2 separate regions of the Homo sapiens genome follow, and region 1 is linked to region 2. The links come from fine-mapping of genetic effects on gene expression. A gene starts in region 2. The other region holds a variant in brackets. All regions are shown on one strand. Distances are between the middles of the regions. Region 1 holds the start of LOC400212 (a long non-coding RNA gene). Region 2 holds the start of TRIM9 (tripartite motif containing 9).

Region 1 (5,377 bases), 130 kb before region 2:
ACCTCAGAAAGGCCTACTTGCAAGGTTGACCCACGGCTAGCATCTGGGAACTTGGCTTTCAGGAGTCTTCCTACCATTCCGTAATTGATAAGGATGGTTTACTGTGCCTAGACTGTTTGTACAAACAATATGGTTTATGCTGAATACCACTGTCCTGCTGGAAGTCTGAAATTTTATATGTGCTAGGCAGAGGGTTTCTATGACCAGTCCCCAATAAAAACCGTAGGCTCTGTTAAGTGCATCCTGTGCCATTTTACTGGGAGGACCCTGGAAGCTTATGTCTGGTTTCCTTTGGGCTTTGCCCCATGTGCTGATTTTGCTTTGTAGCTGATTTTGCTTTGTATCTGATTTTGCTTTTGCTGGTTTTGCTTTGTGTCCTCTCGCTGCAAGAAACTGTAACTGTGAATACATTTACTTCTGAGTCCTTTGAATCCTTCTAGCAAATCACTAAACATGAGGGTGGTCTTGGGGGCCCTTGAAATGATGACCCACTAGGAAATTAAGTTACCAGATGAGTCATTACCTCTACTTTCACAAAGGCCCTTAGGATAAAGTTGGGCATATAACTCTTTGAGTAGGAGAAATATTAGAGGAAATGTGTTGTTTGGGCATTGGTTTATTCACAATCAACTCTGCCCATATTGGCTTACTCACCAATCCCCAAATCACTTAGTCTCAATCATACAAGCACTTTTCACTTAAGACTGACACTGGTTTAGGCTGGGCGCAGTGGCTCATGCCTGTAATCCCAGCACTTTGGGAGGCTAAGGCTGGCAGATCATGAGGTCAGGAGTTCGAGACCAGCCTGGCCAACATGGGGAAACCCCGTGTCTACTAAAAATACAAAAATTAGCCGGGCGTGGTGGTGCACACCTGTAGTTCCAACTACTCAGGAGGCTGAGGCGGAAGAATCGCTTGAACCCAGGAGGCGGAGGTTGCAGGTGAGCCGAGATCGCACCACTGTACTCCAGCCTGGGTGACAGAGCCAGATTCCATCTAAAAATAAATAAATTAATAAATAAAATTAAAAAAAGACTGACATTGGTCTATATAAATTAAAGAAGCCTTTTCAAAAACTTGGCAAGGAGGGAGGTAAGGGAAGAGAATAATCTCACAGAGCAGGAAATGCCTTAAAATTGGATATCAGACATCCTTGCACCCAAAGTCCATTAGACAAACACTGTCCAAGGGAATTCATTACTGGCTGTTTCTTTCCTTGGGTCTTACTCTGCTTCCATGTTTCTGCTGACCATTGTTTTGGAGCAGAATGGCTTTTACCATGTCCTCTTGTCTTGAGAACTCCAACTGCAATCTCTGAGCTTGGCAGGAGCAAAAAGGAGTACCTTAAAATGAAACCAACCAGGCCGGGTGCAGTGGCTCACGCCTGTAATCCAAGCACTTTGGGAGGCAGAGGCGAGTGGCTCGCTTGAGCCCAGGAGTTCAAGACCAGCCTGACCAACATGGTGAAACCCCGTCTCTACTAAAAATACAAAAAAATGAGCTGAGTGTGGTGGTGGGCACCTATAATCCCAGTTGCTCAGGAGGTTGAGGTACCAGAATCACTTGAACCTGGGAGGCAGAGGTTGCAATGAGCCAAGATTGCGCCACTGCACTCCAGCCTGGGCGACAGAGCGAGACTCTGTCTCAAAAAAAAAAGAAAAAGAAAGAAGAAAACAACCAGCCTCCATTGCCAGATGCTATCTGCACAAAGATGAATTACTGCACAGAAAAATTTAGTTCCACATTATCTCAGTCATCTCTGCTGAGCTGGGCTGGAGTTTTCCTTTTGCATAATCAGAGGTTCCATTAAAACATTTTAAAAACAAAAGCAGGCAGGGAGAAGAAAATAAGCAGTTTTTTTTCTGAAAACACCCTTCTGGTGTTCTCAATGCAGCAATGGCTGGAACTTAAAAATTCCCATCCTTCTAGCCATTTTACTCTCAACTCCCCTCTTTTGTTCTGCTACACCGAGAAGCATAATTTTTGTCCTCAAGAATGTGAGCAAAATGCCCTGAACATGGCTGACCTTTGAAGATCTTGCATTTCAGCCCTCAGATGCAGCAGGCACGGTGTATCCACTTCCTCCAGCCATGGTGTCACGGAGAGGGACAGTCTTCACTGGATATGAAAAGAGAAGGCAGGGTGCCCTCTTGGCTGCAACAGATATTCTCATAGCTGCCTGGGTATTATTTTGTGCAGGTCTACATTTCTGAGCTGGCTGCTGATACTGGAGTGACCCAAGCTCCCTTTTCTCTCCTTCCCAGGTGACCATGCTTCTCTGTCCCAGAGGGTGCAGCCTGTTTATTTCAACAAATTCCCTTTGCACACAGTTCTGTTT[T/C]GCAGTCCAGTCTCCTTTATGCTGACATTGATCTAAATGCTTTTTAGGCACTAGTAGGGACATAAGTGACTTTATTTTAAATGCTAATCTGCTGACTAACCCCAAGTCTGGGAATGCCTCCAAAATGTCTAGGTGATGTATTACTGTTTATGTAGGAACAGTTATTCATTGTAAGTTTCCCTCAAAACAACCCTTGATAATGTTGTAGAAATCATAGGCTGTGATGCTTATAGCCACCTACATATTCCTTCCAGAGTATAGATACTTTTTCCTCAAGATACACATCCTGGGTCTGGGCGATTGCAGTGCAGAGATTTACCTGTCTTGTAGCCAGCTGCCTAAGACCAAGCTTCTGTTTGTAAGTTCCCCCCAATAAATCAATTTATTTTATTTTTATTTTTTGAGACAGAGTCTCACTTCATCACCCAGGCTGGAGAGCAGTGGTGCGATCTCAGCTCACTGCCACCTCCGCCTCCTAGGTTCAAGCAATTCTCCTGCTTCAGCCTTCTGAGTAGCTGGGACTACAGGCACATGCCATCATGCCCGGCTAATTTTTTTATCTTTATAGAGATGGGGTTTCCCCATGTTGGCCATGCTGGTCTCAAACTCCTGACCTCAAGTGATCTGCCCACCTCGGCCTCCCAAAGTGCTGGATTACAGGCATGAGCCACCATACCCAGCCCCCAATAAATCACTTTATATCAACAGACTGAATTTGTCTGCCTCATTCTTTGGTGTCTTGGCTCCTTTGGCATTTGGGGTCCACTTTGCATTTATGACCCTTTCATGTATGCCCTGTCAAGTGGTTGACAGGATTTCTAATGCTATTGAAACTTCTAAATTTTAAGAAGCTCAAATGGGTTTCTTAGTGGGAAGTTGTAAGAAATTGTATTAGAGATTATTACCTTGATCAGCAATGGCCTGAACATTGAAGACTGGGAGATTTAATTGAGGAAACAGAAAAGAGATTGAGCTGAGGATGGCTCTGGAGGCATGGGGTAAGCTGCAGTATCGGAAGCTTTCCACACTTCGGATACTGTATTCCTGGTGAGAATTTTCGGGCACAGAAAGTAAAGTGAGGGGGTGCCAGAGAGGCACCTGGCTTACTTGAGAGCTTTGCCTGAGGTTGGCCTTGTTCACTGTCCTCCAGGACACTTGGTGGGGACTAAGACCCTACTCAGAAGAGTCTCTTTTATACCATCTTGGTGATCCTCTGGGAGGGCCAGGGCCAGCTTGCAGGGAGACCAGTTCTCTATCAAAATTTCTTCAGGTCCTGGACATAAACCATTTCAATCTATTCCAGCAAATGGGGGAGAAAGACTGACTTCCCTCTCCTCCAAAGCCACTCTTTGATCCCAGTTGATAACATCTTCTTTAAGCCATACATGCCAGTGTAGTGAGCAGATGGAGCTGAGAAGCATTGCTCAGTATTTAGTATTAGAGGTGTGTGCATGGGCAGTTGTGGTTGGTTTGTTCACGTGCACATGGAACAGCTTACAGGGAACAATAGGTGCATGGAGTCATATTGAAGAAGACATGGTCTCTGCCTCCAGGTAATGCATATTCACATAAATTACTGCTAAACACAATTTAAAACTTGAAAATCATTCAAATCTATGTTTGAGGACCCACAAAATACACACAAAACTGGAATTTTAATTTGTTACTCCAAATCCCAAGTGGAACAGCTTTGCATATGAGGACGGAAGGGATGGAGCAGCTCGCTGGGGAATGTGTGGATTCGTGCTTCTCTGCTATGTGGAAAGTATGGTTAAGAGTGAAGGCCCCAGGGCTGGGTATGGTGGCTCACTCCCGTAATCCCAGCACTTTGGGAGGCTGAGGTGGGCGAATCACCTGAGGTCAGGAGTTCGAGACCAGCCTGGCCAGCATGGCGAAAACCTGTCTCTACTAAAAATACAAAAATTAGTTGGGCATGATGGCGGGTGTCTGTGGTCCCAGCTACTTGGTAGGCTGAGGCAGGAGAACTGCTTGAATGCTTGAACCTGGGAGGTGGAGGTTGCAGTGAGCTGAGATCGCGCCACTGCACTCTGGCCTGAGCGACGGAGTAAGACTCTGCCTCAAAAAAAAAAAAAAAAAAAAAAAAGAGTGAAGGCCCTAGAACCGACATGTAAGGGTTTAAATTCCAGCTCTGTCAGTTACCAGCTGTGTGGCCTTGGGCAAATACAGAAACTTTATTTGCTATAGTTTCCTAATTTTTACAATGGGGGATAATGGTAATCCAATGACATGATGTTGTTGTATAAATTAAATGAGTTAATAAATATGAAATGCTTCAAATAGTGCCTGACACACTGAGCACTCCAGTAACAGTAACAGTTACTCTTAATACCTGCCCTAAGAAGTATTGGTGGGAACTATATTCAAGGACTATAAATCTTTTTAAGTTACTCAAAATCAAAACCCTTTGTAAATCATTTTACCCCTCCACATCCTCACTGTGAACGTAATAGCAATGTATGTTTAATTATATACTGACCATTCTCCATTGCAAGGATAAACAGCTTAAACAAGAGGAATCTCCGTGAGTTCCTCCTGCACTAGACACAGCATATTTTCTAACTTAATCCTCACAACCACCTTAGGATATGGATATTATTATCTCTAATTTATGATAAACTAAAACTATTGTTTAAGGTTAATTACCTTGTCTAAGCTCACATCTAGTAAGTGATTGACCTGGGCTGGGAACTGGGTTTTTGTGACCCCAGAGTCCACGAGACAGATTTTCAGGTGAATAAGATTCAAAGAATTAAAAAAATTTTGAAACCAGTTGTGTAGATCTTTATATCAGAAAAAAATTCCCAGCTCAGTTTCTGGTAGCTTAGAGGCAGCAATTTCTTGTGTTCATTTCTTGGGAAAGACGTGTCAAGTCAAGTTGGCTGTGGTCCCAGTTTCTACCGAGTTGTAGAAGCTATGTTGTTTTTTGAGCTAGATCAGCTGTGAGCATTTGACATTCTGAGACATAAAGTCAATATAGAAGAGAACCTCCCCTCTCACTGTTTATTCTCTGCTACGATT
Region 2 (5,377 bases):
AACAAATGATTTAACATTTCAAATTGACATGGGGCTTGACAGAGATTTAAAGGTTTCTTTTGGTCTTAATAGATCAAGGATAGGCTTGTCATAAAAAAAATAATAATGTTGTGGTTTACCCATCCTAATTACCTTGTGGCTCTAAATTCTTTTTCCTGACAGAGTGATTAATTTTTTAGTTCCAAGGATACTTTGTAGGGCAATTCAACATGGACTATAATTAGCAGTTTAAAAGTGAAATCAAAATATGAATAAAAAACTAGCTGTGAACTCAAGTTTTGAAAACTTTCAAAATTAAATGTCATTTTCAAAAATTTAAATTCGACTGTTCTGAAAACAGTGGTGTGTGCCCAGTTAGGCTTCAATTTGTGCTAAATGAAATCCCCATCAGTACTAATATGATTTAATAGGTTATATGTGAGAATAGAATGACTGTAAACATGGATCACATTCAACCGGGTTAAGGAGTTGAGAAAACTTTCACTGATTGCTGAAAATTAATGACATTTTTTTCTTGCTGTAAACAAAATATCAATGTTCCAGCCTTAACTCCACAGTTGGCCACTTGCAAAAGCTACCCTTTCTAGTCTCCAAGGAATTCTGGGAGACTCTGAGCAAGGCCACAGCTGAGGCCTGGACACTATCTTCACTGCTCCATCTCATCCTTGGGTATGCAACTCAGTGATGTAAAGAAAAGCTCCTTCCAACCATCCTGAATCCCTGCCCTGCACTCCACAGCCCCAACTAAATGGATCATTTAAAAAATGAAAAGCAAATTCATGCACATCTCCTCAAGAGTTGCTCCCTTCCTTCTAAGCAGTGTGGGCATATTATAAGGATCTTCTTCCTCATGAGGCTTATTTCGTTTATGTCTGTGTGTGTACAGGGAGCAATAGATAAATACAAAAAATAACATAATTAAAATATATAGCATGCCACACAGGGATAAATACTACTGAGGAAAATAAAGCTGAGAGGGAACTAGCGGGTGTCTGGGTGGGTGGCGCTGCAAAGATGATACCTGAGCAAAGAGCTGAAGGATGCAGGTAAGTGACCCATTCGGATCTCAGGTAACTGGGGAAGAGAGCTTCAGGCTGAATGAACACCAAATGCAAAGGCCCTGGAGTAGGGAGGTGCCTGGCGTCGTTTGAGGAACAGTAAGAAGCAGTGTGGCTGGAGCAGAGGGAGTAAGTGGGAGGCAATGAGGTCGAAGGGGCCAAAATGGAAGAGGTCATGTAGGACAGGCTGAGAAGCGTGGGAAAAATTGGAGGGTTTTGAGCAGAGGAGTGGCACGACAGAATATGTTGCTAAAGCCTCTTCGTGTCTAGCCATGGTGGAAATATCATCAAAAGAGACTGGAAAGATAAATCTGGTAACAGGTGTCCCAAAGTTTGCACATATAACTACTGAAAGAGGAAAGGGCTTGAATTCCGGAGAAGTGGGTGTGTGTATAGTTGGGAGGAGAAGGTTTCCCTAGGAGATGCACCTGTCTGGCTTCCAGGCCGCGACTGCGCAAACTCCGGTCCTGACACTCTAGTCTCAGGTCCCAACTCCGGAAGGGTTCAGGCCCAAGCCTGCACGTCGCGTTGCCATGGCGACCGCTGGCTGCCCTCTCCGCTCTGTCTTTTGAGCACGTGGCACCAGGACCCCGCGTTCTCTCCAGCTCGAGAGCCAGGTCTGGCCCAGAGCCGGGCTCATCAGTATTCCGCCTGCGGCGTCTCCCCGACCCTCCGCCGTGCCTCACCAGGTCCGCCTATCCAGCAGCGACAGACTCCCGCCGTCCGCGCGACCCCACCGCCCCCATCCCAGTCCCTCCCCGAGGGTTCGCAGCCCGCCCTGCCCTCGAGCGTGCCTAGCGGCCCTGGGCACTGGCGCGGCTCTACCCAGCTATGCAGTGCTTTCCCACACACTGGCCGCGGCCACTGGCTGCAGACCCGCCGCGGAAAGGGGGCGCCCTGAGTCCCGCTCGCAGGCAGCGCGCCCCGAGAGACCCGCTCTAAGGCATCCCCGCAACAACTCTGTGGGGGCATTCAACTCCCCCGTGCGCCGGTTAAGATTCCCCCATGCCTCCTGCAATGCACCAGACCAGGGAGGTAAACATCGAAGGCACCTGCATTGCGCCCCCACTGGGATGCGCTGTGCGCAAGAGACGGGGACCGTCTGCTGCAAAACCGGATGATCGGAGACGCAGGGAGTTAGGAGTGGGTTTTCTTAGGACTCACCTTATGTAGTTTCCACATGGCCCCCAGAGCCTTGACTTCGTGGCTGGAGTGTTTGCCCTCCTCCAAGCACTGGTAGCACACGGGCATCTTGCATTGCACGCAGTACATGCTGTGGTTCTCCAGCTCGTGGTCTGTGCAGGTGGAGACCTTGCGTGGGCTCAGCCTCCGGCTCACACGACCCTGGGCCGGGGGCACCAGGCGGTGCTTGGCTAGGGGCCCCCGGGGCGGGTGGCAGCGCAGGCGGCACGGATCGCAGTAGAAGACATCGCACTGTTCGCACATGACGGTGGCTTCCTTGGGCGCCTTCTCGCAGAGCTGGCACTTGAGGGCCGCGGCTTTGCTCTGCTGGTAGCGGTCAATTACCCCTTCCAGTACGCGATTCTTGGGGAAGCCGCGGAGCCCCCGGTCATCCAGGATGAGGCTGCGGTGACACTGGGGGCAGGTGATACAGGAGTTGCGGGGCACCGGGGCCAGGGCCGGTGACAAGTGGGTGGCCGGTGGCGGCATAGCCGGGGGAAACACGCGGACGCCGTTGGGGGACTTCTGGCACGGGGTAGTGGGGGCGCTGGCGAACCCCCCGTAGGAGCCATAGCCGCTGTCCGCCTCGCTGTATAGGCTCATCTTGTCCAGGTCCAGATAGTCATAGTCGGAGACCCCGGAGCCCGCGGCCCGATGGCTCTGGGGGGATTCAGACTCTGGGGTCTGCACCAGGATGTTGCGGGCGCACGCCTGACACAAATTGTGAGAGCAGGGCAGGATGATGGGCTCCCGATAGAAGGAGCCGCACACGGGGCATTTCAACTCCTCTTCCATCTCCTCCATGGGGACCGGTCTGGGAGGAGACAGCGACGGCTGCAGCGGGTGCCTGAGCTGGCGAGGTGGCCGACGGGCCCGTCTTGTCCAGCACCCTGGCCAGCGGCGGCGGCTGTGGTGGTGGTGCCTTCCCGCGCAGCACTGGCACGGACACCCAGAGAGGCGCTAGCTCTGTGAGCCGCAGCCGCGTAGCCGCCGCGCCGCGCGCCAGCCCGGACCGCCCCTACCTGCCCTCCTAGTCCCGCCCCGGCCCATGAGCAGCGGCCCATTGGGCGGGGGGCAAGAGATCGAAGCTCTCATTGGCCACCAGACCCGTCCGTCTCCTCGTCTCCGCAGGCCACAGGGGGTTCGGTAGAGTCTGAGGATAGGGCAGTCTTCGCTCGCGGCTGCAAGATCTCTGAAGGGGGCCGGCGTGCGGAGGCTAGGGGACCGGGAAGGAGGAGTTAGGCGGGATGATTCATCCTCGCCCGGCTTACTTCCGACCTCCGGTGCAGTCTCCCAGGAGCTGGGGGCGTGAGAAACCCCTCCCCGCAGCGAGTGGGCTGCCGGAGGGGGCTGGGGCTTCTCGCCAGCGTTTGCGTTTGGCTCCCAGCTCTGAGCTCCGCGCCCACCTACCGCGGGCGAGTGCTGCGCAGCACGGAGGACGCCCCTTCTCTTCCGCTGCTGGCAGCCTTCGCAGGCGTCTCACCCGGGCCTAGGCTTCTGCACGGCAGTGGGGCTTTTCTCCTTCTCCGTGAATCCGCTGACGCCGTGCCCTGGAGCTCCCCCATCCCGGGAGTCTGACGGCGCTGGCGCAAGCCCTGGCGACACTCTTGGCTTCTTTCATCCTGCGTCCCTCGTTTCCTAAAGAGCATGTATAAAGTCGATTTCCTAGTGTCGACATGAGATTCAACTGGGTAACCGATGGAAATGGTCAGCATTAGTCAGAATCTATGACCCCTTCGTTTCATGCTTTAAATTATAGCTCGGCCCAGAGGCCTCAGTGCCGTGGTGTGAACGTGCTTCCTTCCACGGATCCTTCTTCCTCCTCGCGGCCTCCCAAAGCACCTGGCTGAGCTTTTTCGAGGCCCGCTGGGCCTTTGGTTCGGTTGAGGCAAGAACAGTTTGTCTATTTCTGAGTGCCCGTAGTTTAGTAAAGCTCTGTAAATGAATCACTGTGTGACTGCGGAGTCTCAGTGTTTCACTCCAAACAGCATTATTCAACCCCACGTGCCCTGGGCATCTGCCATAGCTTACAGCATCGTGTGCCTTTCTGTTTCTTCCAACGAGGGGCATGGTGAGGCGGTGATTCTAGTGTTAGTCCCTGTACAAGGAGGGAGGGAGGGAGGGAAGAAGGGAAAGAGGGAGAGAGGGAGGAAGGAAGGGGGGGGGAAAGGAAAGGCGGAAGGAAGGGAAGAAAGGGAGGGAGGAAGAAGAAAAGGAAAGGAAAATCTTTGAGTCAAGTGACATTCTGAGGTAGTAACATTTGAAATAGTACATAGCCGGCTTTTGCTGAATGATTCATGAAGTAAAGGACAAAAACTCTTTGCAAGTTCTAGAAATATTCCAATTTTCCACCTTCCAGACAGGAGATAACTTGATTATATGCAGCTATGTTGATAATTTAAAAGTACTTTATTGTCCAGAAAAAAAATGGACATTTTATTACACTGCCCTTGTAGAAATTGTCCAATAAACTAGGTTATCTTTTCAACATCTTTAGTTGCAGTGAGAACAGTAGTTGATCATTGTGTGGGGGAATAAAGTCCCCATTGTTATTTAAAGCCATGTTAATCATAAATGTGACGTGATTTATTTTTAAGCTGGCTTTCAACTAGTTGAGACCAGAGCATCCAAAGGTATATGCACTCTGTTTACAGACATAGATAAAATTTCTTCAGGTATGGTTGGGACATTAGCTGCACTTGCAGGATACACTTAATTTATAGGTCCCAAGAGAAATTACTAATAATTATATTCAATATAGTATTAATTGAATTGTAATGAAAGTTAATTATTGAGAAAATATTAGAAAGGAGTGTCCTTTTATGGCTTTTGTATGCATTTGACCACAAGTCACAATATCTTGGACCAGCAAGGTGAGCAGCTGTTACACTTTGTATGAGTTTGAACTCTGCTTATAATAGTATATCATCTAAGAGATCTTATTAGCAGAAAGTTTATGCTTAGTTCAAAGTAAAGAAGAATTTTAGAGGATGTCTCATGGTGTAATGCAGTGTTGGGTTCGCAAAAAGAACAACACAGGTTTATAATATAGTCAATATAGAAAGATTTGGTCTATTATGAAGTCGCTTGAGATGATTTCATTGTTAGATCTGTTTGTTTAGGAATTAGCTAAATCA

Evidence for each region.
Region 1: its variant is fine-mapped to the expression of TRIM9 in whole blood (TOPMed, PIP 0.95).

The regions. Positions count from the first base shown.
Region 1 is chr14:50,959,620-50,964,996 of GRCh38, forward strand. LOC400212 (a long non-coding RNA gene) reads right to left here and starts at 2,708. Exons shown (of 4, transcript NR_170195.1): 1 at 2,027-2,708. RefSeq lists a silencer at 2,292-2,586. The variant T/C (reference allele first, on the strand shown) is at 2,339.
Region 2 is chr14:51,091,896-51,097,272 of GRCh38, forward strand. TRIM9 (tripartite motif containing 9) reads right to left here and starts at 3,210. Exons shown (of 13, transcript NM_001387360.1): 1 at 2,223-3,210. The coding sequence starts at 3,044. RefSeq lists a silencer at 3,202-3,271.